Regions from separate parts of the Homo sapiens genome. Here regions 1 and 2 are each linked to region 3. The links come from fine-mapping of genetic effects on gene expression. A gene starts in region 3. Each other region holds a variant in brackets. All regions are shown on one strand. Distances are from middle to middle. Region 1 overlaps NPAS3 (neuronal PAS domain protein 3). Region 2 overlaps NPAS3 (neuronal PAS domain protein 3). Region 3 holds the start of NPAS3 (neuronal PAS domain protein 3).

Region 1 (10,947 bases), 510 kb after region 3:
TTCTTTATATTTTTCACTTTTTGATTCCGGTTTTGACTTCTGAATCTCTTTTATTTCTAAGAGTTCTTGTATTAGTCTGTTCTGATGCTGCTAATAAAGACATATCCGAGACTGGATAATTTATAAAGGAAATACATTTAATGGATTCACAGTTTCACGTGGCTGGGGAGGCCTCACAATCATGGCTGAGGGCAAAGGAGAAGCAAAGGCACGTCTTACATGGTGGCAGGTAAGAGCACCAGTGCAGGGAAACTCCCCTTTATAAAACCATCACATCTCATGAGACTTACTCAAGAACAACATGGGAAAGACCCTCCCCCATGATTCAATTACCTCCCCCCAGGTTCCTCCCATGACATGTGGGAATCACGAAAGCTACAATTTAAGATGAGATTTTGGTGGGGACACAGCCAAACCATATCAGCTCTCTTCTACAATTTCTCCCTTAATTATTTCATGATTCCTCGTATGACATAGTTTGCAGATTTCTCGATGTACTACTTCATACTCAGTGTACCAATATTCTTATGTGGTCTCAGTAGGGTGAAGACTGGGGGGAGGACTAAATCCTTGATCTAAAAATTATACTTGTATTAACATGGCTTAAAAATGATACTAGCTATTTAGCAGCCACTTCACTGTTTATTTGTCTAACTTTTGGTGAACTAAAGTTCCAGATCTCAGTCATAAGAATGACAGTCAACTGAACATGGTGGTGCCTGCCTGCAGCCTCACCTACTCAGGAGACTGAGGTGGGAGGAGGGAGGATTGCGTGAGCCCAGGGGTTGGAATCCAGCCTGGGCAACAGAGCAAGTTCCTGTCTTAAAAAAAAAAAAAAATTAAAAAACTACAGTTAAGCCAGGTGATACGGTTTGGCTGTGTCCCAAATCTCATATTGAATTGTAGTTCCCATAATCCGCATGTGTTGTGGGAGGTAATTGAATCATGAGGGTGGTTCCCCCATGCTATCCTCATGATAGTAAGTTCTCATGAGATCTGATGCTTTTGTAAGGGGCTTCGCCCTTCACTTGGCTCTGTCTTCTCCTTGCTGCCGCCATGTGAAGAAGGACTTGTTTGCTTCCCATTGTGCCATGATTGTAAGTTTCCTGAGGCCTCCCCAGCCATACTGAACTGTGAGTCAATTAAACATCTTTATTTTATAAATTATGCAGTCTCAGGTATGTCCTTATTAGCAGCATGAGAACAAACGAATACACCAGGTTTTCCCCATCTTGTATTTAAGGAAATGATTTGTTAGCGTCAGTTAAGACTTGACATTTAGTTCTGCTGCCTCTAAGTTTAATGTTTTCTGAACCTTGTTTACTTAAAGAGGTAAGGTTGAATCTTGATAATTTGATAATTTACCCTTACCTGAGTTCTCTCTCTCAAATACATTTTATCTGTATGAAATGTCTTTATGAAAACATTGTTTAAAATGTGGAATGATTCAGGATAATTACAGAGCAAATCAGTAGAAGAGAGAGCCCTTTACAGATTGACCAGCTTCCCTCAGTTAACACTGAATTCCTTTACTCAAGTTATTATTGCATTGTTCATAGTTATTACTCCATTTAACTATATTTTGTCTTCCACATTTTCCTCAATTTCAAGTCTATCGAATATGCTGCTAAAAACATCATTATACTTAAAGGGAAAATTTGACTATATATCTAGAAACTCTGTTAAAAAAGGAAAAAAAAAAAAGTTAATTCACCAAGATTTGTAATGCATGCTTGCTGCCTCCCAGTGATCACTGGTTTCTTTTACAGAGTTTTCTTAATTTCATATTTAATAAAATGTTCCAAAGATTGCTAACTTTATGTATTGAATGAAATTCTATTAGTTTAGCTGGTAACTACTGTCCCCAGCAGCTGAGAGGCTCAAACAAAAGAGCACCAGTAGGGAATCCAGTTGCATGGATCTTGTCCTGGAAGATACATGACATGCCTGGAGGTGCTCACCCCCTCCACACACGCTAAGGAGCCCAGGCAGAGAGGGGACCAGTGGGCCAAAGGCTTTATTGACTCCAGGGCATTATCCAAACAGATTTCCTGCAGGGGAGCTTTAATTGCAGGGTTTAAAGCAGCAGCCACTAGTTCCAGGAGGTCACGCTGTGACTGAGAAGGAGTCACTTTAAGTTTGCAGGCAAATGTCTGAATGGTCCATTTACAGGAAGTGGCAGGAAAGTGGGGAGCCCAGCCTGCTAGGTGGAAGAGATGCCTCTGAGTTTTATCTCTGGTCACCAGCTGGAGCCATTCGGGTAGGGTATAATGTTGGAAACTGTGTCAAGGGTGACTGAGACCTGCTTCTGGTATGAGAAAGTTAACCTTTTATGTGAAAATAGATGCTGAGGCAACATAAAATTAAAAGCACCCACTGTGGTACTGGATCTTTTGATTATGGCTTGCCTACATCATGGAACTTGAACTATTTAATTTGGTACATTTGTATTTTTTTCCATTTTAGTAGAAGAAATTTACACTTTGTCTTTTGGAATCTTCAAGTCACCTTGAGAGACATTCGATTTAGAATCCCTAGTCATGGAATTATGTCTGTCTGTTCACTATGCATTAAGAATCTGTATGCCTAAAACTCAGGGCGTGGGACTGAGGATACCCAGCCTTTTCTTTCTTTATGATGATGACCACAGTTGCAGTGTTACAACTTTGTTTAAGGTTCTTGTCTATACCTCCTCCATGTTCCTTCCTCTTTTTGTCCAGAAGAGAACAAGCAGGGGGTGAAAACTTGCCAAACAAGTCATGTGAGCAGTGACGGGATGACATGGGGTTGTTAAGCCTGGGGAAAAGAAAGTTTGTGCAAACAAAGTAACTGTCTTCGAACATTTGAGAGACATTGAGTTGAGGTAGAAGAGTTAGTTTGAGTCTGCAGATTCAGAGAAATTTGAATTAAGGCCAGTAACTAAGCAAATTTTAATGTCATTATAAAGACATCTTGGTCTAAACTGGTGAAACATGGAATGACCCATTTCCTGACCAGCGTCACTGGAGGGTCCAAGGACTACTGGGGCTATCCCATGGCAGAGTCGGGTTAGATGGAGTCCATGTGGATCGGCCTGGGTAGTGTTCACGATTCCTCCAACCCTGAGATCACATGATTTTTATGCTTTATATATTTATATCTTGTTTAAAAGAGATCTAAGGAAATGCTATGAAAATCAGTGCACATCTATTCACATTCCCCTTTTTCCTTCTAAAAGTTGAAACTGCCTGTAAGGCAGGAATTTATCAGATGCTCTGCTTTTGCCCGAATGTTACTCCCAACAGATAGTCTAATGCTTGAGGTTCCCTCATCATCATCTTATCATTCTGCTACCCAATTTAATTATCTGCTTTCGGAAATCATCCTTCTTATCCACCATGCTATGATCTTCTCTCACAGCAACTTAAGTATTTTTTATTTAAACCAAAATATTCTCCATTGTGTTCCCACCTTCTAGGATTATTTTCTCCTCAGGTTGTTTACATTGTTTGTGTTTGTTCACAACAGACTGTACTATTCTTCGGCACTTGGTTAATTGTATTTATTTTGATCAATACACACCCTCTGTCATTGTTCTCCATGCATGAGTCACATCGCTCTGAGTTGAGGTGTATACTGCTTATTCCTTTGTGTTAAAAAAATTTCTATTATTCTCCTTTATGCTAATATTTAAGTTCATTTTGTTTTATTGTCAACATTTTACATATTACTATATGTACTTCAAAAACTAAGTATTCGTAGCAAAACCTCTGTTATCATTCCGTCTTTGTGAAACTCACTGTCTTCTACTACAGCTATTCTCCTGTAGAATTTTACCTGTTTCACCCCAACTCTGACATGTGCCTCCAATTTCTCTTTGAAATATTTTTATATCTCACATACACATTTCCTGATCTTTAGAATAATTTCTCTATCTTGAGCCAGATGAGTGAAATATAACTCTGTTATACAATTGAAAAAACATTTCCAATAACAAAAAATATGTTGACACTATTCTCTTGACCAGCTTTCTCATACCAAGCCATAACCTCAAGGATGAAGATATTTCCCCAAGGCCTTCAGTTTCAGACCCAGAGCTTTAAATCTTCAAGAGACAATTTGGAACATTTTCTATAACTACCATTTATTCTCTCTTCAAGTCAACCTACTTGAATAGGAATTTGCAGGTTCAGTGGCATATCATTTTAAGCAAGAATGAACTTCTTGGTTACCCATGTTGAATAACCAACCCATTGTTTAGGAGACAGTCACCAGCTGACCCACCAACCTTCTTTCTCTGGAGGGTACACAGGGACCTCCCTGGGCTGAGGCCTGTGCCTCTTCTTTGGGTAAGGAGTGTTGCACTTTTTTTTTTTTTTTTCAGAAGATCCAAATTTAACTGCTATGGTCAGTGCCATTTACAGTTTTTGTGGCTTTAGTGAAATCTAGTTTTCTCTTATCTTTTTCCTCAATGATAGCTTCAATTCTCTAATCTTCTGATGTTCCGTTTGAGTCAACATCAACCCCACTGAAATCTTTTCTTCCAGTTTTCATCTTGGATTATTTTTTCCATCTTCTCTAGGGACACTTCATGCTTTCTTTTTTTTTTTTTTTTTTTTGAGACGGAGTCTCGCTCTGTCGCCCAGGCCGGACTGCGGACTGCAGTGGCGCAATCTCGGCTCACTGCAAGCTCCGCTTCCCGGGTTCACGCCATTCTCCTGCCTCAGCCTCCCGAGTAGCTGGGACTACAGGCGCCCGCCACCGCGCCCGGCTAATTTTTTGTATTTTTAGTAGAGACGGGGTTTCACCTTGTTAGCCAGGATGGTCTCGATCTCCTGACCTCATGATCCACCCGCCTCGGCCTCCCAAAGTGCTGGGATTACAGGCGTGAGCCACCGCGCCCGGCCACTTCATGCTTTCTAATAAGCAAGAGGATACATAGATATTCCTGAAATTCTTTCATGTTCTTTACTAGATAGTTGTATCTCATTCCTCCCTCGGAAGAGATGGAGAAAAACTTGTTAGCAGTCTCAGCAGAAAATTCTTGAGATGGCTCAGGAGTTTCCATTGAATCATCCTTGGTCTTTTTCTTTTCTTTCTTTCTTTTTAACTGCGTAATTCTATTCTATTGCCTAATGTCTTATAGGATTTATTTTATAAAATCTTTATGACTTTCTGTCAGTTGTATTCATGTTTTCTATAGCATTAGTTACAGAGAACAAAATCTATTAAGTATATTCATGTATGATCTGACCAATGCTGCAAAATGAGATAATATTTTCTATGCTACCTAGTGTTTTCTAATATGTTGATTTGAGGTGAAATACTATGTTTGAATCTTACAGCAGGCTCATTAACTAATACAACTACGTTTGTATGTAGCTACCTATTGCATAATGCATCTTACAAATATTTACCAAATAGCAATATGCACGAGATGCTATTCTGAATGGTGGGATATACTTATGAGCTAAGCAGGTGTCTTCATCTAAAGAAGCT[C/G]ACAATCTGTGGAGAGAGAGATAGACCTGTAATAGCAATCCATTGTGCTGAGTGCTATCACATGGGCATATGCAAAAGGCCGTTGGGGCCTAAAGGACTATCTTAGCTTGGTGGTAGAAGTTCAGAGAGTCTTTGCAGAGGATAGTACTTGTAAGCTAAGTTTTTATGGGTGGGTAAGATGTCACATGAATGAGAGAATTCTAAATGCAAGAAATGTGCAAAGGCACAGAAACACAGAAGAGCATGTTGTACAACCTGGCTATAGTTTAGATTTTGTGTGTGTGCTATGAGAGTGTGCGTGTGCTGTGAGTGTGTGTGTGGGCGCACGCACGCATTTGTAGGAGGTAGGGAGAAGAGTGCCGGCATAACATGAAATGATATTGGACCTCAAATGGTATGCTAAGATGTTTGACAATTTTATTCTAAGCAGTGAGTTTTTAAATTTAGACATGCAACTATAACATGAAAGAGGATTTCGATATTAGGAGTAGTGTGACCACTATGGAAAGAAGAGAAAATAGTGAGGGCCTAAAACTAAGGTAGCAGCAGGGGTGAGAACAGAATTGGCTGGGCAAAGTGGCACATACCTGTAATGCCAGTGCTGTGGGAGGCTGAGGCAGGAAGATTATTTGAATCCAGGGGTTTCAAGCCAGCCTGGGCAACACAGTGAGATCTTGTCTCTACAAAATATAAAGAAAATTAGCCAGGCATAGTGGCACACACCTATAGTATGAGCTACTCAGAAGGCTAAGGCAGGAGGATTGCTTAAGCCCAGGAGTTCAAGGTTAGAGTGAGCTATGATTGTGCCACTGTACTCTAGCCTGGATGAAAAAGTGAGACCCTATCTCTTAAAAAAAACAAAAACAGAAGGATTAAGTGACATTTAGAAAGTAGGAGAGATTGGATTTGGAGACTGAGTCTCTACATGTGTGGCAGAGGGAACAGTTAGCCTCCAGCACGTCTGGCCAGAATATTTGGGTAGATAGTGATAATGATAAGTATGAATTATGTAGGAGGAGGGATGGAGAAGATTATTAATTCGATTGGACAGATAAAAAATTTGAAGTGCTTTTAAGACATATGTTAAAGATGGGACTGATTAGGGTTGAAACTTAGGAGGCTTAGAGATACAGATTTGAACATCATTTGAATTTGTGTAGGTTGTAGTAAAAGTCATGCACTTGGATGAGATCCTCTAAGAAGAACATATAAAGTTTTAAAAGAAGAAAATTCAGGGCCCAGAATCCTAGGGAACTCCATAATTTAAGGGGATAACAGATTTCATCTCTCTAAAAGACAGTCCAAAGATAGAATAGGAATCTTGAAGAGAGTAGTGAAGATTGGAAATGGCAACTGCAAAAGAAGCTCGTGAGCTCCATGCGGAAGGGTCGCTGAGGGCAAAGTGGTGCTGAGGGCCCATCTAGGTGTTGATAGCATACATTTTGCATCTTACTTTATTCCATGAACTGTGCTTGATACATAGCGCTGTGGTTGTCCTTACCAATTTAATGATGTTTCTGATGATCATTGTTCCTATTTGGCAAGATTACTTTAAATTCTGAGATTATCTTGCAAGGAAGAACTTCATTTGCACCTAAATTTTGGTGGTCTTTATCATAATGAGGAACATCTCTCTGCCATCATCTGGATCCACGATGAAAATATCAAAGTGCCCCTGAGACAAGGATGAAACGTTGCCGAAAACTGCTGTCCCTCTTCCAAATGTCCGTACAGATGTGAATGAAAAATAGCAGCATACAAGCATCTGAACTGGCTTGGTCAGCCCAGCCTGAGTGAGCAGGCCAAAATCTGTCTGCACCAGATGCCAGCCAGGTCCAAGAGAAACCCCAAACGATCTGATAATAAAGAGGAAACCCTGATATGTCTGTGGCCAAAAATAATTAGCAATGGAAATGGAAGGGCACTTAAAGGAGGAGGAAATAAAGGAGGAGAAGGGATTTTTCAAAAAGAATCTCTGGGCAGACACTCAAGGAGAGTTAAACACCCCAACCGCATAGGCCTCAAGGGAGCAGGTAGAGGTGACATTGTCTGCTGTATGTCCACCGAAAAGAGACTGCAGGAGTTCTGGACAGAGTGCACATTCACCCGAGTGATAAGGCAGAGGCTTAGGATGACTGAGTATGTTGAGTCCTACATGTCTTCCCCAACTCCATCCTCATATTTTAGGAGTTATCTGGGTAGATGGAATAACCTCTATCTTAGTACAAAAGTAAGTGGACTACATCCCAGGGGCCAAATCCAGCCCTCTGCCTGTTTTTATAAGTAAATTTTTTTGGCATACAGCCACACCAATTAATTTATGTGTTGTCATGGCTGCTTTCACACTACCACAGCTGAACTGAGTAGTTGCAACGGAGGATGTATGCCCTGCAAAGCCTAAAATATTTACATTCTAGCCCTTTACAGAAAGCGTTTTTTTGACCCCTTAGTATGAAGACACTTTAGCTTGAAAAACAGCTGTGCCTAAATTCATCTTATATGATTGAACCACTTTATAGCATAAATACACAGACACCCACACACACATATACATGCACACACATGCACACACACACACACACACAGAGAAGAAACTGAGAATTTAAATGGCTAAAAAATGCAATCTGCATTCTGACTCTGAATTATATTTTTTAAATGTTGCATAGACTTTGTTTGGATTACCCTCTTTTATTCCCCCCCAGGCTCTGTCTTAATCTTCCTAAGTGAAATCTGTCCTTTGCTTCATGTTGTCTTGTAACCATATTTCAATAGCACTTAATCAGTGATAAAACTGCTTTGATTTATTCCCAGCTGTGGATATTATTGTTGAAATCTGCGTAAGTGTTCCGACGTGTTATGATTGGAGCAATAGCATTTAAGAGTCCAGAGGCAAGTCAGAAAATTAACAACTGAGTTTTCTGATGCCTAAATTAACTGCACAGACAGCGCTGAGTACAATGAGAAAGTTCTGTAGAAACTTACTCGGCAGTATGTAAAGTGTTGAAATGGCTCACCCATTAAAAGTATTACATGGTGAGGACAAGTTCTCATTGGATATACTTCTTACAGGCAGTGCCACAATTTCATGTAAAGGACAGCTGGCTGCTCTTCTGGGACACTTTTCTTTATGCAACATATACATTGTTGTTGCTAAAGCATCTAACGTGATGTTTCTCGGTTCTACAGCAAAACTGAGCCGCAGTAGGTGCCGTGTGGTAGGTTCTGCTGATGCATCTGCAGTCATCGGAAAAGAAAAAAGCCATATGATTATAAAAGCAATCTGTATTCATTGCAGAAGCGTAGACTACAGAAACACAAAGAAAAGCAAAGTGACTCATAATCCATAATCGTAGCACCTACAAATAACAGCTCTTTGGTGTCTAGTCTCCCAAACTATTTTTTTAATTCCTGTGTTATTCATGAAATGAGATAGATCCTGAAAAAAACATCTGAGTCTAGATGATATGTGGAATAATATGTTCTCAATTTTTCAGTTAAATTTCTGGCACTTTATTTCTTCATGGAATCTTTCCTTAAATACTGTTGTTATTTCGCTGCCAGATTGCTTGTAGTTTGAGTTGTACTGTATGTTAGAGTTGGCCATGATATTTTATTGTTTGCTGTTTTTCTAAATCTGAATCTGTGTGAATTGGAGAGAGAAGTTTTCAATACATATTTTAATTGCTGTTGGTTTTACTCGACTCTCTTCATCTATTGTTTACAAATATCCCCAAATACAACTAGATGTTATTGGTAATTATTGATTGTCATGGTTGCCAGGCATTACTGGACCTAGAGTTCTTTTTTACTACATAAAAACTCAAAATATTATTTTTTCATGAGACAAATATGCTTTAATGTCTATAGGAGCTCTGTAACTGTCATAAGTCTTTTTACAATTTGAAATAATGGTATTAGATCGTTTCCTAACAAACGCTGAAAATGGCTACAACCTTAAGTTGTGTAGTCTTACTCTATTATTGTGGATCAAATTGTTTATCGTTCCAGCTAGACTTGGAGATCCTTGAGATCCAAGATATTTTATCTCTGTGTTTTCAGTACCTTTTCTAGTCTCTGGCACATAAAAAATACATGCCTAATAAATATTTGTAGAATACAAAATTACTTGCCCCAAATCATCAATTGATACAGCTGTGCCTCCTTATTTGCTCTGCCTGCCCCCATATTTCCCCTTATGTTAAACAATACGGTACAGTGGTTAAAAAGTAGGTTCTTGAGTTCAAAGTCTCTAGGCACTTTTAGTAAAGTTTAAATCTGAGCCTTCTCCACTTCTGAGTCATGTGACCTTGGCAAAGCCTGTGGACCTCAGTCCTGCTATTTGTAGAATGTTGACAGTAATAGAACTGACAGCACAGAATTATTGCAGGTGAAGTGAAATAATACCCTGAAGTGCGTTGCCCATTCTTGGTGTCCAGAAACTGTTACTATTTATTTTCCTCTCTCTCGATCATTTTCATACATTGAAATAAGCTATGATAGACACTTTATAAGTTTTAAAATGCTTTTAACATGTATAACAAATATTAAAAATGTATGCTATGACAATACGGTTCATTGTTATGGTTTCTTTAGGTTCATTTCACTTTCATGGATTTACAAGCACTGTAAATCTTGGGCCTGTTATCTTTGCACATTTTCTTGTGCCCATTTTCATCTAAGGAGAAATTAAGGAGTAGAGAAAGGATGTAAGTCTCCTTAAGGCTACTCAGAATTATAAACAGTAAGAAATAGAAGTTCTATAGCAAGATTCTTAAACTGTTGAATAAAATCTTCCTTTCCTATAAAAAGACTGTTCTGAGTATCCATACAAGTATCATTTATAACCACAGGCAGGGTATGTATGGGCTTTGATTTCAGGTGCTGTGTTTTGCTGAAGTCTGCTAACAGCCTCTACATCAAATTCATAATGATATTAAAATCTATGGTTCTTAGAAAAAGAATGGTTGAGAATGTGTTACAAAAGCAATTTGTCTCATCATGTTAATGTTGATGCCCTCTTATCCCAGAACCTGGCTGAAGCTGGAGTCAAAATCTATATTGGTTTAATTTTAAGTGGCCTTGTGAACAAGTGCATTCAGGCAATGAAGGAACTGAAAGCTACTTAGACCACCCAGGCTCCTGGTTGTGGACTCTCGGATGGGGCTGGGCATTGTTAAAGGAGGTTGAACCTACATGCTTAAAGTTTCTGTGAAGGAGGAGTTGAATTTTTAGGACAATGTCAGTTGCTTTTATTGTAATCATGGTGACAAACTGAATTTATTAATGAGCATAATAGGATTAGATATTTTTAAAAGCCTCTAATTTTCTAGTTTAATTTGAAAGGAGCTCCTTAAAAAGTAGACAAATGCTTTCCTGCAATCTTTTAGAAGAAAGAGTACATAGAGACTGATAAAGACAAGTCATGGCCGGGCGTGTTGGCTCATGCCTGTAATCCCAGCACTTTGTGAG
Region 2 (10,947 bases), 160 kb after region 3:
TAAGCCAATTTAGTTTCAAAAACGAAGCTATTTTTTGGACACTAAAGAGAGGCAATGTGTTTAGAGAGAATTGGGAACAGGTTTAGTATTGGACTGTTAACTCAGGGTTTGTCAGTCAAATCTGTGACCTTGTACAAGTCACTTAGTCTCTCTGTGCCTCAATTTCCTTGTATGGGGAGTAATAAAATTGAACTAAATAGGCAATGTGTGTTTCTATGATTAAATTATTTTGCTTCTAGTTATCATGAGCTTATATCCGTAGTCTGGCAATGTTAAAATAAGCAGTTTCTGAGATGAAGAATTCTTTCCGTTCCTGCAAGTATGTATGGCTGCAGAATGTTCCAGTAACCTTCTATGACGGTCATTCATGACTATGGAAATCTCCTCAGCGGCTTCTCTACATTTGGCTCCTCTACTTGTTATCTTAATGTTTGATTCACTACTTGGTAATATTTTAAATGTCACTTTAGTCATCTGAAACTCTGCTGTCAATTGTTTAATGTCCCACTACTTATGTTAACTACTTTTCTGACAGTTTGAAATAAAAATGTAATGCCTGCCTATAGCCAGCACCTTAATCAAGGAATAAAACAGCACCAGTACCATGGAAGACATTCTTGTTGCCACTCTTTGTGCAATTTTTTCCCCCCATTCTAAGAGTAATTCTGGACCAGGTGTAGTGGTTCATGCCTGTAATCCCAGCACTTTGAGAGGCCAATGCAGGAGGATCGCCTGAGCCCAGGAATTTGAGACCAGCCTGTGCAACGTGGTAAGACATCATCTCTGCAAAAAAATTGGTAAAAAAAAAAGTGTAATTCTGTCTCTGAACACAGATAGATTAGTTTTATCTACTCTTGAACTTCCTATAATAGAATCATATCATATGTAATCATTTATGTTTGACTTTTGTTTTGCTCGACATTGTAAGATTTAGCTATGTGTATATCATTGTTGTTTGTTCAGTCTCATCACTGCATAGTGTTTCATTTTGAGAATATACCACAGCTAATCTGTTTTATTATTGATGAACATTTGGGCATTCCCAATAGTGTAGATATGAACATTGTTGTACATGTCTCTTTGGTAACATGTACTCATTTCTGCTGGTTATATATGTAGATGTGTAGTTTGCTCAGTCCTAGGATATGCATATGATTATCTTTTGTAGATAATGCCAATTTTCCAAAGTGGTTGTACCAATCAGCAATATATGAGAATTCCAGTAACTCTTTATCTTTGCCAAGATCTGTTTTCTGTCGTTCATTTTTAGCCATTCTGGTGGATGTGTATTGCAATATGCTTTTAATTTGTAATATCCTAATGACCAGTGAGGTTGAAAACATTTTCAAATGTTTATGAGCCACTTAGTGTTAGTTTTGTGAAGCACCTTTTCGTGTGTTTTTTTACTAATTTTTTTCTACTGAGTTATTATCTGCTTTCTTGACTTACAGTTCTGCAAATATTTTAGATACAGATCTTTTTATACTTTTGAGATACAAATATAATCTCCCTTTCCTCATATTTTTCCATTTCACTCATTTAATTGTATCTGTAGAGGAAAAAAAACTCTTAACTTTAATATAGTGCAATTTATATATATTTTCCTATTTAGAAATTTGTGTCCTATTTAAGAAGTTATTGTCTACTGTAGCATCATGAAGATGTTTACACATATTTTCTTTTAGAACCCTTTAGATATGCATTCCATCTAGAATTAATTTTGTGTATGGCATGAGGTTGAGGGCTCTATGGATATCTAAATAATCCAGCTCCAGTTGCTGAGTTGGCATTATCTTTTTCCCACAGCACTGTAGTTTTGCCCTATCATAACTTAGGTTATCATATGTGTGCCTCCAATACAAATTTTAATTTTAGTATTTTATAGAATTTTTTTCAGATTTAGTATAGGATTGTAGAGAGTCAAATTATAAATGGTAGGCATTTAACTGATTCAAAGATGATGATGACAACAATGATGATGACAATGGTGAATACCATATATTGATTACCTACTTATTGCTAGACTAGTACTGTCCTAGACACTTTGCCTAGTGATGTATTTCAATACTCAAAATGACAGTTTTAGGAAACTGAGGCCCAAAGAAGTCACACAGCTGGTAAAGTGGGAAAACATGGATTCTAGCAAAGTTCTAACTAATTTCAAGACTCTATTTGTAATTGCTGTTTTAAGCTCATCTAAGAATGCTACCAAAGTTCCGGTCTCTACAGTCTGAACAAAAGCAATTCTTAAAAAGAAAAAGGCAGGAAAGTATAACTAGTGTATCAAACTAGACTTTTCATATTTCACATAACTTAGTATACTCAAGTTGACTCTCAAATGAGACTAATTTAGAAATAAATCAGTGAAGCCATATAAATTTCAATGATCTCCCATTTTCCTTAAGAGTGGTGGGATATGAAAACTGCTATTAACTGAAGTTTTGATTCATTCTTTAAATTGCCTGAGACCAAGACCAGTTGTGCACTTTGAGTGCTTCACAAAGGTGCTCAACTGAGGGGGCTTTTGGAAATGGAAACTTAGTCTATGTTCCAGTAGCCAATCCTTGTATCCGTGGAGCCGAGTCTATCCAGAGAAAGAACCTTGCGGCCTTTTTCCAAGTCACACAAAGCCCTGGCAGGCAAGGTCAGGTCTAACTCAGCTCAGATCCTCAAGGTGTACATAGAACAATAGCAGTTTCCCGAGGAAAGCTCTGGACAATCCACTCATTTCTGAGCAGGCAGCATGGGCACCACTACTACTTGGCTCTCCTGTGACTGCTCAGCTTTAGCAAAGGTGCCAGTATAAAGATTATAATCAGTGTTTTAGTACCGTCATACATTTGATACTAAATTTGAGGACATAGATTAAAAAATCTCATGAAAGCCATGGACATCTTAATACTATGGTACCATCTTTGCGTATTCATACATACATACAAAATTCTGCATGTATTTCAGGAGGCCCAAGGACTAGAGGATCCATTCCATGGACTCTATGAATCTCAGGTTCAGAAGCCTTGCTTTAAAATTCTACATTAAATGTAATGAAGGAAAAAAAAATGTAGTTTGAATGAAAGAAATGGCACTAGGAAATGGTGATAGAGTTTGAACATGCTTTGTATAAGGTAAACTCTTCTCTAAAGGGAATTACTCGATATTAAATAACTAAACATTATAATTAGCTCAAGAAATATACTTGAAGAGGACAAAGTATAGTACAAAGATGTATAAAGTTATATAAGTTGTTCAGAAAACTAATCCAAGGGATAGTTGGGAGTCTATTGTAGGGAAAAAACAAAATGCAAAGAATCTGATATTTAGAAATTATATACCTATGTATATACCCATCTCATTAAGAATAGCTGGTTTTATACCATTTTAATAAATGGGAGAGAAAGGACTAGCAGTGGCCACACCTTTACCTGGTTTATATTCTCAGATTCTTGTATTTGAAAACACTGGTGTCCAAATTGAAACAATAAGGTGAGAAATAATCCACTAAAGAAATGGTTAGATTTCTAAAATTTAAGTTTTCCATTATTTTGTTGTCCTTTATAGAAAAAGAATGAACAAGTCTTGGTTTATGAGTAATTTGCTAAGAATTTTTAAATATTTCAAGGCAACTATATGTAGCCCTACAAATTATAGAACTGGTTTAAGTCACTTCTCTGTCGTTGTGAAAGGTCTGATGTGGTCAGGGCTGCAAGAGTGTTTTCTGAGTTAAGAAAGGGATGACTTTGTTTATAAGCAACCTCTATCTAGATCACTTCTGATTGGGCAATTTTAAACATTCTGAATTGTAGCTAATGGGAAGGTAGGTTTTTCTTGTGCTGAATATTAAGATACAAAGTTGGGATAGAAAGAGTTCTTCTCTTGACCCATTAATTGAACCACTTTTTGAAAAACTTTTGTCATGATGAGTTTATTGCTAAGAGTTAATTTTACCTGCAGAAAAGAAGCATTCTGAGCTATGGGGATAACTGATATCTATAGTCATCATTTTTTAAGGTACTTGATACATAATAGGATCTATTGCTTCATTCATAATAGAAAAGCCTACTTAGACATTTGTAGCTACATTTATATTACAAGGGGTAAAATATAACTTTGGGTAAACTGTTACCTATTTTTCTCTTTCAGTATCAATTGAGAAATATAATTATACAACGCTATTTAATTTGCGTAGTTAACTTAAAGGAAAACTTCACTAGTATGAGTTACCTGGAAGATATGTCAATCTGAATTAGTGAAAGTTCTGGAACATAAATTATTTTTAGTGCATATTGTCCCCTGATCTATGTTTTACAGTGTGAGCAATTAGGTCAGTTTTAATAAATGTGGGAATTATTTTTAATTACACTACAACATTAGCCTGAAATTCTGGCTTCTGGTTACATTGTATTTCTGCTATTGCTTATAAATGGCTACTTCCAAAGAGAGGAAATATGTTATGTTTGAAGGTAAATGTTTACCTGAATATGTTTTTTTCACATTATTCTATAATGTGAGGCTGAACTTCAAATGACCTTGAATTATCAATTATTCTGATTTACTGGATCCTTTATTACATTTGAAGGGTCATCAGTAAGGTGATAAATTGTAATGCTGTGTTCCTAGTTACAGAGTGTTCAGAAGGATGGGACTAGTTCTTTGTGAAATAGGTAGACCCTAGATGGATTTCCCCAGACATACCATCACCGCCCTGCCCCCCACACACACCTGCACACACACTGACATACACCTCAGTATCTAATACTTGAGCATTTCTGAGTGTTTGCCAATTTAAACCTTTTCCAGTCTCTTCCCTTATTCAAAAATGCCCTTTAATTTTAAAAAGTTATGCCTAGTTGTTACTGGGACTCTTAGCAGATATTATTTAAAAAGGGAAGTTATAAATCCTTATCTTTAAAAAATATATAATTTAGGGGAAAAAAGAGTGCAGGTGTATTGTAAACAAAGGATATGTTCAGATGGCAACATATGAACAACAATAACTTGTAGTAAACCCTGACTAGAAAAGGGTGGCACAGGTTTGCTGATTGTACATGTAGCGATTGAAAAAGTTTTTAAAAATTGTATCTTTAAACCTGTGTGTACTGTTAGAAATTATATTCCTAAAGTAATTGCCTCCTTAGAGGAAGATGAATGATACCCTGATCAGGTAGAGAAAGCATATTGGCAGTGGAGTCTGTTGACCCTCTTAGTGGAAGAAATGTCTAAAATTAGGGCCAGAGTTACATTTATGGGATCTGAGCCAACACCATTCATTCCTAAGCTTACATTATTATGCTTAATATGCCCTAATTTATGTTAATGCCCCCAGATCTCTCTCCTGACTTTCATAGGTACTCATCCAATATCCTGTTGTACATGAAGATCCAGCACTCACCACGGCCTCCATTCCTAAGCTGAACTCTTGAGCTCCCTGCTAAAACCTGTTTTTTCTTCCCTATCTTCTATTTCAGTATATGGCCAGCACTATTCACCCAGTTTTACAAGCCATAAACTGAGGCATCATTCTTGTAACTCCTGTCCCCCACCATTTTCTCTCATACTCATGTTGCATCAGGCAGTAATCCTTGGTGATCCTACCTCC[C/T]GAGTACTTCTCAGACCTACACAGACCTCTGTTCCCACTACCATGCCAGCTTAGGCCAGCATCATCTCTTGCCTGAATCAACCTCTTTTTTTCCCTTCTCCAGTCTTGCCCTCTCCCACAATTCATTCTTCATATGGTCACCTGCCGTTGGGACTTTACTGTGGATGTGTTTATGAGGTTGGTTCCCATCGTGACAGTAGGCAAAAATTAGCTAGGGATAGAACAGAGTACACAAGTAAGGATTGATTTTGAATAGAAAAACTAGGGAGAAAGGGGGAAGCCTTGGAGAAAACTGCCTTGCCACACAGAACCATATCCATAGTGATTAAGACTTCTGACTCATAGAACACCTGGGTTCAAATCATGGCTCTTTTGTTAGTTGTGTGGCTGTGAGATCTTTGCTTACTATTTAGAACCTTGGCTTCTTCATCTGTTAGAGGTAGATGAAAATAGTAACTCATTCATATAGAGCTGCTTACCGGACTAAGTAAATAATCATGTGAAGTACCTGGCATATAGTAAGTGCCCAATAAATGTTAACTGTTTGTATTATTTTTATTGGAGTGCCGCCTAGGAATAAGAGAGTTAAGACAACATCATGAGACCCCTGAGTAGCGAAATAGGAAGGATGCAGGCATATAATGAAGCTGCTATTGCCAGCATAGCTAGGAATGGGAATGGAAGTGGGAAGAGGGGAAGGAAGACACTGACTATGTGAACAAGTGGCTGCTGAAGACAGCAGTTGTCATGCACTTACAGATTTTTCTAAGATAGGCTCCAATTTAAACCAAAACAGAGAAAATTACCTTAATTATTTAGAAGTTTCTGGTTCTGCCTCAAAAATCTTATTTACCAAGGTAACTGCTTAAGTTCTCCACTTTTTTATTTGTGTTAACACAAGGGTTTTTTTGCATGGAGAACTATTACCTTACAGTATAGCAGTCTGCAGGCATTTAGTAAGTGTCTGGTTCCTTTATTTGCAGATGGGCATGGTTTTCTACTAAAGTTGGTGGTGACTAGTGGTAAGTTTATAAGGAATTTAAGTTAAAAGAAAAGTATACATACCAATACCTTATGAGGAATGTGTTTTGTGAATGAAAATTCAGGTAAAGTATTGGGAATATGGTGTGACTTCTGCATGCCCTGATTCAGTGGTCCTGCAAACCAGGCTCTCATGACAAATAGATGTTCCCACCTGGGGACCGGCCATAGTCAGTAGAAGCCCTGACCCTTCTACTTTCCCAAGAGCTTTGGTGGTCTCAGAGCCCACTGTCCTCACCCTCTTGTCTGTGTCAAGAGCTCACCTGAAAGTCAATGGACATGGAAGCTCTGCCATTGCATCATGTAGACTTACTATCAACCTTCATGTGCTGTTCTGTATATTATTTCTGGCTTACTTAAGTGGTGTTACTGCTGAGCTGAATTTATTCTACATATTTAGGCTTTTACAAGCTTTGGTGTCCTTGAGGGTAAAGGTCCTAAGTACCATTTATAGCGATGATCCAGTTGTAGAAAATAGCGTCCTTGAAGATATTGCCAAAGAGCAATTGGCAAGATTTATTTGCACTGTGAAATTTTAATTGCCTCAGCTTTAGACTTTCAACTTTTATTTTGAGGTCAGTGCTACTCAGTCATAGAGGAGCAGCACTTTGGCTGTGTTGAGAGTGATTGGGTAATAATGAAGGGTGTTGGAACAGCTTCACCTAGAGATTAGCTAAAGCATATGTGTGCAGAAGCACAGGATGACTTTGTCCGGAGATTGTGTCTTCCAGAGAGGAGGAATATGAATGATAAGATTTAGGCTTCTTTTAAGAGAGGCCATGCCTTTTGAGTTCAGTGAGGGTAGAGCTGCAGCAAGAAAAGCACTGGGTAGGTAGCTCATGTGTGGCAGAAAGGAGGAAGGGATATACCATTAAAGGAAAAGGGGGAAAAATACAACTTCCAGAATCTTAAATATGCTGTTGACAAAAAGAGCTCACGTTTACCCCTAAAAGCTTATGGCGTCTGGCTTCAATAGGGAACATGAAAGGAGAAAGGCAGAACTACAGAATGCTGTAAAAAAAATCTGTATGGGTATCAGCTACATTGCAGACTCACTATAATGTAGACTATTGCATCTCCCTGTGTGCTGAGTTCATTTCTGTAAATAACAAAAGGACCTTGTTCTAACACCTTCACTTATAACAAGGTCCTTGAGTATAAAGTAGAGTTGAGCATTGCAGTATGGCTTTAGTACCATTCCACACATTTATTGAAGGGTTGTCATGATTTTTAAAAGTCTTGTTCTTATTTTCTTTTCATGCTGCTTCTATTTCAAAGGATGATTTCATTTCAGTTCATGTGGGTAAAAGTCCGTAAGTTACTACATTTGTGATTAATTCTGAGAATCCTCTTCAACTACACTGTAGTGAGTTGTAGAAATTTTATATATAGTGAACTTGTCAAAAAGAAACTACAAATTTCTTCTGTGGCTTTTTATTTTTAAAAACTACTGAGCATTTTAGTGAAAACATCTTACATTCAGAGAACATGTGAAATAAAAGTGTATTAGCCAGAGGCCAAAATGGAACATTAGTGGCTTGTGTGCCTGTACTGACGTAGTGTTGGATGCCAGTTGGCCAGACATGGGAACATTTAGATTTTGTTTCTGAGAGGAAGCAGTGCATAGCCGTAAGCCACATTAAGTTCATTAGGTGCAATTGCTACATCACACAGTTAATATAGTGAGAGAAATAAACTCTTCAGTGACTCAATTCTAGTGGCACCAATTTTAACCAATTTGTCAGACAATTGAGTATGTTCTGCATTTAGTATGGATTTAAAAAAATATGGTGCCCATTTTCATGTTTGGTTTGTTTGGCTTTCCAGACATAGTTCAGTTTATGAAGAAGCAGCTATTCACTAAGCAAGTCAGCATTGATAATGGGGGTTGCGTTTGTTGCTGATGTGTAAGGAAGGTTTTACTAGCCAACATAGGAATTTTGGAATATATCTAGGAGAGGGTTCATGATGTGGGAAAGCATCTACTATATCTTGGAGAAGTGTGTATATATATTTGCTTCCAGTAATCCATAGGTTTGTATAAAAGATGTAAAGGTTAAAAATCACCAAACATACATCACACAAATTGGATTATAGTCATGTTTGTTAAATGCTGAGATTCAAATTTGTAGTTATTTATGCAAATGATCACATTAAACATATAACCAAGTGACGCTTTGCTCTGTCACTTAATATATTTCTTCCAAGGAGCATCAAACTTTATCTTCAAAAAGCCTGAAGTATGACCTATTCACTCCATTTTAAAGATGAGAAAACTGAGTAAGATAAATGTGGTAAGAAATGGAGCAAGAACTACTATGATGGTGGCTGCTCCTATGATCTGCATTTTCTGCTTTTCTGCCTTTTTTTCTGTAAGTTTACATTTATGACTTCAAAGCATCATTTTCAGTTCTCAACCTACCTCCAGGTTTCAAACTGTATATCCAGCTACTTATTTGTTATCTCTACCTAGTTTTAACTAAATCTTTAAATTAGATTACATGGGCTACTAAAGCACAGCAAAAACTACTCCTTGTTACAATGAGTCATGCAGTATTAGATAAATATGCAGATGTGTTACAGGACCAGGCAATAGCTAATGTTAATCAGTCCCAAATTAGTGCTAGTTGCAACAATTTGGTGTTATGTTCATAATTCAGGCATACATATTGAACATATATCGTTATTTAGGAAAAAAAAAGATCAAAACTATGCTCCTGAAACAACAAAAACAAAAATCTTAGTTAAAAAATGTCTGGTAATGGCATGGATAAGATTGATGGGTTGACATGGCTGATGTCTTTCAGAATTATTCCTACAGGAGTTATTTAAAAGACTGAAGCTTAGATGAGGAGAAATGTCTGTTGCTTCTTCCCTGGAAGCTTGGATATCAAAGATATATTGACTCTTTTGACTGTGATTTTGGAATAGTTACATGAAACAAACTCAACCAAACATGAATACCAGCTTTCTGTAAGTGCAGTGCTTCTTAGAAATAGGAAGGCCTAGACTGAATGACCTCCTTATGTCCTTGCTGTGATCAAAGCTCCAAATTCTTAGGAATGTGTTTCTTTATACTAATAAACCACAAATTCATCCAATATAGACTTTTCCTTCCTTTTTGCAAAATCTTGGAAATTATTTTGTAAGATAAACTAATTTTAATTTCTAAAGCTGATGGACATTATTTTGAGAAGAAAAGAAGTATGTTCTTACCTCTAGTTTATGGATTAACTCTCAGTATTGTCCCAAATATAGTAGCAGCAATTCAAAAGATGTCTTTGTTTCCACTTAACCTGCTATTAAATGCCACCTTCTCCATTGTTTTAATTCAGTTTGAGTTTATCCCAGGTTTGTGAGTCAAGCTGATCCTAAACTGGACTAGAGTAAAATTTTCAAAATTGCTATCAAAATTTTTTGTGAATCAGAATACATTGATAAATTAAAGGAGAAGCAAATCATTATCCCAACAAAGTGGTTGACTAATCAGTTGAACTTTTGAAAAGTTGTGAATGAGACCACCTTAGTCTTCCACTGGAGCCCTGCTCTTAAATGAGGAGAAAAGCTGTTATCTTTAAGTACAAGCTAATGAGAAACAATAATCTATAATTTTAAAAGATCACCTTATTTCCAGAACATAATTTGAAGAGGCAGATATTAATGATCTACTTACCGCAGAACTGATGCACGGGAAGTCTAAACAACTTGTCTTGGTTCATACTATAAATTATGATAAAACCAAGAACACCACATGATTTCCTAGTGTTTCAATTCTGAATGCTGCTAGACAGATGGATTTCTCCCTTAACACTATGAATATAATGAATATCTTACAGTGACACATCTGAAAACAGGTATGTGTGTGTGCATGTGTTGGTTTGTTTGTACTTGCATTTACTTTTAGGATTGGGTTGGGGGACCATGGACTATTGCTTCCCTTTGAGTGTCACTGGCTGTTGTATTCTCACTTTTTCTGTGTCTTCCACTCAGAATAAAGGCTGCTGGGTAGGTGCTCCCTATTTATCAGGATGCAGCTGTGCATTTAACCAGACCCTTCTCTTGAGCTGAACTCTCTATCCTGGGTTCTTGTGACTTCTTTCTTGGTATCACAGGGCTAGGTAATCCAAAGATTAAGTCTGATCTTTGGGGCTTTATGCTCTGTAAAAAAATATATTTTCTTTTTTCCCCTAATTTTTATTTTAGAATCAGGGAGTACATGTGCAAGTTTTGTCACAAAGGTATATTGCGTGATGCTGAGGTTTGGAGTACAAATGAATTCATCACCCAGGCAGGGTAGTGAGCATAGTACT
Region 3 (8,924 bases):
CGCTGTTAAGTATTCATCTTAAACGCATTATAATGCAAATGCATAAGATTCAGGGATACAAGTTAGGAAGCAAATTTTACAAAGTCAGGCTAGGTGGTGAGAAGGAAGTTTTAAAGTATTATTTGTAGTTCTCTTAAACGTATTTATAGATTTTTCTTAAAAATTACGTATTTGACATTGAAATAGTAATTTGATTCAATAAGGAAAGAAAGGGAAAGCAATTTACCACTACCAACAGCTTTAGAACCCTGAAGTTTTTCCTGAAGGACAACTTTTGATGTTCCAAGATTTTACTGAAAATGTAATCCACGAAAATGCGCTGAGAAAAACTAACAATGTACTATGAAAGGTAAACTCCCCATTTGTGGGGCTTGGTTTTATAAAAGATGGAAGAAAAAAGAACACATGAAAGTGTGAAATTAAATATTTGTGTTTCCCAGATTGCACATGATTAAACATCTGAGAGATTTGCCAATGGCATTTAACTTAAAATATACACAATGCATAATTCAAATAACAGTTCCTATTTTTACCTTGTATTTCAAACTTCATTGATTTGAGAACCTTTGATTTGAACCAACAGTATTTAAACTGAAAAGGTTAAGATAATCTATCACTGCCATATTTTGTGCCTTCCAAGCAATGGCCCAGTGACCAGAGCAGATTTTGCATAACACACTGAGTGTTTTCCAAGTTGATGTCCAGTATTCCAAATATTCTGTAGAAGACTTCATTATATGCTCTGTGTACTGTCTGAAGTTTTTTTTTTTTTTTAAAGAGTTTGGAAAATAACTCAAAAAGGGGCTATTCCTTGTCAAAGGGATTTTTGATTTAAATTATTTTAGTCTTGTTTTACTTCAGTGATTACAGGAATCTTTAATACAAAAGATCTGGGACTCTTTCAAACATGAAAGACTAGAAAAGAATTAGATTTTTCCTTTTCATGGTTCAGGTATGTTTTTTTGGTCACTTATACAACATTTAAATGACAATAGTATCTGGCGGTCACTTTAACTAGGAAGTGCAGGCAATGGTCACAATAGTATGGTCTGTGAAGTAGGGAGTCAAGGGTCAGAAATGTCAGATGGCCTTTGGAAGATTTCAGGGACCTCCGGGAACTTGAGCTAACTTATACCATATAAATTGGGCATAAAAGGGTGGGGGATTAGGAATTTTCTGCCATCAGGTTTGCTCTGAGTGTTGTTATCCTTTACCATAAAGATCACCTCAGAGAGAATTTTCCCTCAAGGCAGGAGCACCAGGGGCAGTCCCCTACAGTCTGCCACCTCAGCACTGAGAGCTGCACTGGTGCTTTCCACTTTCAACTTTGAATTTGGGCACCTTATGAAGTCTCTGAATCCCACTGCAGTTCTAAAGACTAAGGCTTTTTTTTTTTTTTTTCTAGCATCTCTAAACTTTAGCCTTTGGGGTGTATTATTCCCTCCTTCGATTTTTATGTTATATTGGCAGAAGAGAAGATGATAGCTGTGAAAAATGTAGCCTTCTTTGATTTTGTTACTAAGACATGATGACACCTGTTACTGTCTTTTAGTCAAAATAGGGGGAGGGGGGCAGAGAGTGAGCCGTGTAGGTCAAGGTCATTGGCAGGTGTTGGAGGTAGGGTCTGAGTCAGGAGTCCCCTGTCCTCTGGCACCTCAACAGGATTGTGGGGTTCTGAAGGACAGACTTAGTTTCCGCTTGGATTTGTTTCCATCTGGATTTGTTTGTTAAGTGAATGGTGACATATCATTTTACCAAAAAATTATTTTTAAGTACTTTTGAGGAGTCCGCCGCGGGAGTGACAGGAGTGGGGGGTTTTTCAAGCAAAGAGTGGCCTCTTGGGAGACTACAAGCTTCTCTCATTTGTCATCTTCGGGCAGAAACCCCCTAGACTGGGTGTCCTGGAGCCAAAACTTTGAACTGGCAACTTTTTCCCTTCTCTGCCAGCCCATGTATATCTTGTCCATAACACTCTCCACTCCAGTTCATTTCTCATTCTCTCCTACCTGTAGAGTGTACTCCAAAGAGAACTTAAACACCATCATGCAGATTAAACACCTCTACCACGAAAAACATTTATGTGTTCCTTTGGAAGTTTCCAACTCCCAGCCCTACTTTACTGGAGTCGTAGAGACCGAATGGAGGACCCCTTTTCAGGTCTTTATTTTTTTCTTAAGCTTAAAGTCAAATGCAGAACCTCACACAGGACTGATGTTTTCCATCAGGCGCTTTCATTCATTCAAAGTGGAAATGCTTTGGGAGTCCTTTCTACTTGCCTGGTTGACACATGACTGACCCAAGTCTCTGCGTAAAAAGCTGTCCACACGCTTCTGATTGGTTTAGTGGAGAAAACGCTCTGACCAGGGTCTACCCAGGTAACAGGATTCTAGCCCGGGCCCTGCACTGAGTAGCCAGCCTTTCTCTAGGCCTTGCTGAACTGTCAAACCGGGGTGCGGCTGGGCTAGATCCCAGAGGGTGGCAGTCCGGTCCCAAGTCCCGGGACCCGAGTCGGGAGGGGCTTCTGTATGTGAGTTTAAACGCGCGGGGATTCACCTGTGAACCCTGGGGTCTGCACTCCTGTACGTCCGTGACTGATGCAGATGCTCCGGCTTTGGGAACGCTGCTGAGAGCGCCAGAGCCACAAGGTGCTTGTGCTGCTGCTGCACCGCCCACGGGGCTCTTGGGCCCATCTGCTTGGGCCAGCGCACCCCCCATCCGTATTGATTTCCGCTGCCCCCAAGGAGCTCCCGGGACTGTGTCCTGCCCCAGCTCGCTCCTGTGGCCTCCCAGTTCCTTTTTCTGTTTCTTTCTTTCCTCCTGGCTGCAATACTCCAGAGAAGGGAAGTGTTTGAAACTGCAACTGAGTGGCGTTGTTGCGCCGGCAGCCGAGCCTCCCAGTCCCCCAACGAGAAAGAGAGAGAGAGAGAGAGAGAGAGAAATTGAGAGAGAGAGAGAGAGAGAGAGAGAGAGAGAGAGAGAAGGGGGGGGAGGTGTGTGTCTGCGTACGAGAGAGCGCTCTGGAGCAAAGCAGCTGGAAAATGCCCAGAAATACTTTCACAGCGGTCAAGCTGGAACCCCCCGCGTGTCCTCCCCCTTCCCGCTCCTCCCGGCCTAGACCCCGCGCCCCCCGCAGGGAGGGTGTGCGCCCCACCTGCCACCGGGCTGCTCCGGGTGGTAGAAAGGGGTGACGGGGGACGGGGGCGGGGGCGGGTGGCGGCGCGGGGGTGAGAACCCGGAGGCGGCGGGGCCCTGGGCCGGGCTGCCCGCGGGACCGCGCGGCCGCCTCCCCCCGCCGCCGCCGCCGCCTCCCCCTCCTCCTCCTCCGCCGCCGCCGCCGGTCGCCTGTCTCCGCGCCGGGCATGCCTCGGGAGCCGGGGCGGCCCGGGCCGCGGGCGCTCTGCGGCGCATGGACGGCGGCGGCGCCGGGCGAGCAGCGGGAGGAGAAGGCGCAGGCGGCGGCGGAAGCGGCGACCCACGGCTGGGAGCACCGGCGGCGCGAGGGGACGGCCGGCCGCCCGCGAGGCTCCGGCCCCACTACTTTTCCGTAGCCTCCCCACCTCAGCAGCACGGCCGCCGCCGCCGCCGCCGCCGCCGCCACGGCCACGGCCACGGCCCCGGCCCCGGCCACCGCCCGCCGGGCAGCCCAGAGCGCCGCGCACGGCCGCACTCTCCCGCCACCCCACGCACACGCACACCCCCGCCCGCCCACGCCCCCCACCCGGGAGGGGGGAGAGAGGCAAAAAGTAAGAGAGGAAAAAAAATAGCAGGAAGATGGCGCCCACCAAGCCCAGCTTTCAGCAGGATCCTTCCAGGCGAGAACGGTAACACTTTTCTGTTTATTGAACCTGCCGCCGGGCCGCTGCTCCCGCCGCCGCCGCCTCCGCCGCCGAGGGCCCCTCTCCGCAGCCCGCCCGCCTCCTGGGCCGCGAGCCCGCGGGGACCTCGTCTGGGCGCAGCGCTCGCCCGGGGCCCCGCGCATTGTCCCCGCGGCGGCTGCGGCAGCGAGAGGCTCTGGCGGCGGCCGGGCTCTCTGAGCAGTCGCACCTCCTCGGCTCGGCGAATAGAGTGACTCACTGACAAAAAAAAAAAAAAAAAGAAGAAAGAAACAGAAAAGAGAAAAAGAAAAAGAAACAAACAGATGCGAAGGCGCTGCCGTGTGACGGGAGCAGCAGCGAGGGTGGGGGGCCGGGGATCCCCGGGGCCGCCGCAGGTCCCCTAGCAGCTGCTCTCGAGGAAGGGAATGAGGCTGGGGAGGGGGAGGGAAGGCGGCGAGCAGGGGGAGGAGGCGAGGAGCAGGAGGAGGAGGCCGGGGGCGGGGAGCGCGGAGCTCGCGCCAGGCCCGGAATGTGTCGCGGAGGGGCCGGCTCCGTCTCCGCGCGAGCAGCTAGGCCGGGCCGAGCCCAGAGGAGCGCGGCCGCCGCCTCCCTGCCTCCCGGGCTGCGCCCTCCGCTCGGCAACTTGTGGGTCTCCCGCTCTGCCCTCCGCTCTCATCTTCCCCTCCTCTCCATACCCCTCCCAAAGGAAAAAGAAAAATAAAGAAGAAAACCCTCAAATCCAAATAAGCAAACAAACAGCGAGATCCAAAATGTGTCAGCAGTTGGAGCATCTATGCCCCGTTAGTTACTGTTTGGGGATCTGTGTTTTAAAAAGTTCCTGGTGAGAATTGCATATCCAAGCAAGGGGCTCAGTCGAGCATGTCTATTTGAAGTTAGTTAAACTAGTACAGCCACAGGGAAAGGGAGTTTGTGTTCAAAATACCCGTAACTGTTCTACGTGAGTAGCATTGATAGATTTTCAGAGTAACTCAGCACCCCCTCCCCATCACCACCAACGTGGTTTTCCCTCCTGCTGTCCACCCAGCCTACTTTCTTTGGAATCCTATTTACTATTAATTGGCAACGTTAATGACATTAATTGCATATAGCATATTGGTTTGAGCAAAGTGGATATCTCTTTCTGTCTCCGAAGAGGAAAGGCGCAGTAGGAAGTATGAAACGTCACCCACTGATTCATGAGGAAAACAAATACAGTAAGATATATGCACCCCCACCCGCAGCAGGCGCGTTGATTTTCCTCACAGGCTTAAGTGAACTTGAAAAGAAGACAAAGGATGTGCTTAGTTGCAAGATTTAATTATTATAACATAGTTTTATTTTTGATGCAACATAATATTTAACCTATAGCTTACATCAGAAGACGATAAGGGGATATTCAGACATCCATTCATTTAAAAGGCTTCTATTGTACTGTTGCTTATTTCTTTCATACGATAGGGAAGGCACAATTGTCAGGATTAAGGAAATACTTTTGTTAAGTAGATACATAATTGACTAATTCTGAACTCTAGATGATTCTGTAAACATCATATATCAGAGAGTAAATCATACATAATCCAGTTTTTAAAGATGTTAAATGTGTATAGCATTAACTATTGCTCCCAAACTGTAGAAAATCTGACAACTCATACAGCTAAAATGAGTATTTACTTCTTAAGAAGTATCAGTGTTTCATGAAGAATTCACACTTTACTCTTGTAGTAGAAAAAATAATTTCTCAGAGCATTGTGCAAGGATTTTAAAAATTATTTTTTATCTAACATGAAGATGAATACTTTTTGAAATCTGAGGTTTATAATTGGTTTTCTTCCCCCTCCCCTCCCCTCCCCTTCCCTCCTCCCTCCCTCCCTTCCCCTCCTCCCTCCTTTCCCCTCCTCCCTCCTTCCCCTCCCCTCCTCCCTCCCTCCCTCCCTCCCTCCCTCCCTCCCTCCTTCCTTCCTTCCTTCCTTCCTTCCTTCCTTCCTTCCTTCTTCCCAGTTCTGTTGTTAATAAATATGTTTACTGGGATGGCCCCAGTAATCTCTCTAGCAAAGGCCTATTCGTGTGCCATTTTAGGAATTTCTCTGAGATAAGAATCTCGGAGATAGAATTAATTTCTAGGGGAAACTTCATAGCCTGTGCATGAGTGCGTTCTTTATCACCTGTCTCCATTTGGCATTCGAAGAAGGTAAATCAAAGTGTGCGATTTGTTATTCTGCTCCACTTGAGAGCTGAACTAAATAACACTTGGTCTGAAATTCTGATTGAAGTTGTAGGAGGATATACTGTATTTAATTTAATGCCCTTTAATAGCATCTTCTTGTTCAGCTTGGATGCTGTCATTTTAAAGGTTGGATCTGAGAAGGTTTAACCTGTATGGAGAAGGAGGAGTAATAACAGCGGGGTGGGGGCAGGAGCACTGTGGAAGATAGGAAGGAAGGAGTTATAAACTAAACCTTTCAAAAGGCAACAACCGCAAACTTGGTCCCTTATCCAAACAGTTGTTTTATGCCCCAAGGGTTCACTTTGTTGTCAGGGTTTTAAATGCTCTTAACACTTTAAGTGTAAACATTACACATGTAAGTTGATTTGGCTTTGTAATGAGAAATGGGAAATCAGATGATTTGTTTAGGAGGGGGCTGTTTTTCATACTTGCTTCAAGTAAGTGAGTAATTCCACCTTTATTTGCACATTGTGCCTAGAACTTGTTGGTTAACAAGTATTTCCTTGTAGCAGTTGAACACAAATATGTTTATAAAAGATGACTTTCTGTGGATATGTTTTAAATGGTATCCTCCTATTTATTTAAAAAAATGTTTTCAAAATCATTGATTTCACAGAGGCATTTATGGACAGTTTATTCTTTACTGCTTTTCAAATATATTAGTAATCTGAAACTTACAGAGAAAAATATATCTTTTGAATTGTCTCATTTATTTATGAAATGTCTAACCTGTGTATAGTAATACAGTACCAAAGTCATTTCCTTATAGTAATGTTTATAATGTAAATTTCAGAAAAATAAGCTCGTTCTTGATAATGTCTTTGGTTACTATTTAGTGCTCCTTACATTTCTCTGAATTACATATACAGAAAGTGTCTCTTTAGAGCCTGAAAGAACAAGTTGAAAACCTTGTGTACATAAACTTGTTTGATTTTCTTTAAACGCCAATAGACTGCAAATTATATAGCACTACCACAAAGTTTTTCTACTATGTGGATGTATAACCAAAAAAATTAGACAGAGAGAAGTGTCAAGCATGTGATATGCCCATGCTGATTTGCAAAGCGTATCCCAGTAGCACAAGGCTTTTGGTTTAAAAAGTAAAGGTGGTGGAGACTGGTTTTTGGAGGTATTTCTATCTACAGTATAAGCTTAAATAGGGGTGATAAATGATTATATGCATTGTCTAACACTTGCTTATATATATAAATAGCTCCACAAGATTGCTTAAATGATAATCGAAAATATGAAATAGGATGGCCTTCATATCACAAGGCCAAGGGTCTACAAATGGAAAAACTGAAATAATGAAATATTTCCAAGGCAACAGACTGTCAACAAGAACTGTAATGCATGGGCATATCATGATCCACCAGAGAGGATATTAGATCGTATAGCTCCAGAGCCAGGAGTTATAATGACCTTTATTATGTAAGACCCTCCCTCATTACAACATCTTTTCAGATTTCCAATTTCTGATTTATGAATTGAAAGACATATAACTACTCCACATGTGCAATATGCCAATCACTAGATTTGATTCCTTACAGTGAGCAAATGAGCAAACTTGAATTCAACATTATTCGATACTTTTTTTTTTTTAAAGTTACATGAGGTGTTTTCACCTAGTAGTGTTATTAGTAAGGTTTTGGTTTCTGTGTCTTTATATAGTCTTAAAAATATGGCTAAAAGTGATGTGTAATTAATATCTCAGCAATCAATTGGTAAGACTTATACTGTACTTCAAATATAATCCAGAAATTGGAGCAGTTTGATAATTTTAGTCATATGAATTTTGATCTTCCCCTGTAATTCTTCTACCCAATGGCTGGCCCTATACTATAATATAGCTATTTTATGAGAAGGCCAGAATACTTATGAACCACCTTACTCCTCTTCCCTGCCCCAGATCCTGGTCTGGGATTCAGTGCTATGTTACAATTGTGTCTGTTTGAAGTAGGACCTGCTGCTAGGATCCCCTGCTCTGTGGTGAGGTTTTCTATGGCTTCTGTAAAGCAACACTTTTGGGGAAGCATTATTTATTTTCTTAAGCAGTAGGTCTTCATATTTGGGGATTTCTTTTTTGTTTCTTTATTTCTTTTCTTTTTCTTTTTTTTTTTTTTTTTAGACAGAGTCTTGCTCTGTTGCCCAGGCATGCTGGAGTGCAGTGGCACAATCTCAGCTCACTGCAACCTCTGCCTTCAAATGATTCTCCTGTCTCAGCCTTCCAAATAGCTGGGACTACAGGCACATGCCAATACGCCCAGCTAATTTTTGTATTTTTAGTAGAGATAGGGGTTTCACCATGTTGGCCAGGCTGGTCTCAAACTCCTGACCTCAGGTGATCTGCCTGCCTCAGCCTCCCAAAGTGCTGGGATTACAGGCGTGAGCCACTGTGCCTGGCCTTTATTTGGGGATATTTATGGAGAATATATTACAAAAGTTTCAAAATCCTTTTAATGCTTTCCTCTACTAACTTCCTTAAGTGCTTTACTATTAATAATGACCCTAATGTAACCTTAATCTGTTTTTGTTTTTCTACAATTCTAGTAAACCTATGTCTTATGCAAAATGTCACTAAATTTAAAGAAAATTAACACTCATGAAAGCAGAGGTAGCTCCTGCCACCTCCATGCTATGTTTACACAGTCACTTTTTCTGCGTATAACATTTAATCATTCTAATTGATTTTTTAAAGTTCTGCATTGTATTTGGGCTACAGTCTAACTTCAGGTGTTTTATAGACGTGTCTTTAATTGCTTAGGATGAATAAGGCTGAAACTTAGTAAATAAGTTAGTATGTTAAATTTTACTTGATTAAATATTATTCTTTAAATTTTAAATGCTATCAAAATTGCACATAATGGAATATGTGAAACTTTAAA

Evidence for each region. PIP is the estimated chance that this variant, and not a neighbour inherited with it, causes the effect.
Region 1: its variant is the best candidate, but not a certain one, in a credible set for the expression of NPAS3 in nasal epithelium (TOPMed, PIP 0.65).
Region 2: its variant is the best candidate, but not a certain one, in a credible set for the expression of NPAS3 in breast (GTEx, PIP 0.55).

Annotation. Positions count from the first base shown.
Region 1 is chr14:33,441,589-33,452,535 of GRCh38, forward strand. All of the region lies in intron 4 of NPAS3 (neuronal PAS domain protein 3), which reads left to right. Among named protein-coding and RNA genes, the nearest start is that of SNORA89, 260 kb to the right of the region's middle. The variant C/G (reference allele first, on the strand shown) is at 5,479.
Region 2 is chr14:33,096,428-33,107,374 of GRCh38, forward strand. The region is part of intron 2 of NPAS3 (neuronal PAS domain protein 3); the gene reads left to right. Among named protein-coding and RNA genes, the nearest start is that of NPAS3, 160 kb to the left of the region's middle. The variant C/T (reference allele first, on the strand shown) is at 5,597.
Region 3 is chr14:32,935,546-32,944,469 of GRCh38, forward strand. NPAS3 (neuronal PAS domain protein 3) reads left to right here and starts at 3,334. Exons shown (of 12, transcript NM_001164749.2): 1 at 3,334-3,821. The coding sequence starts at 3,772.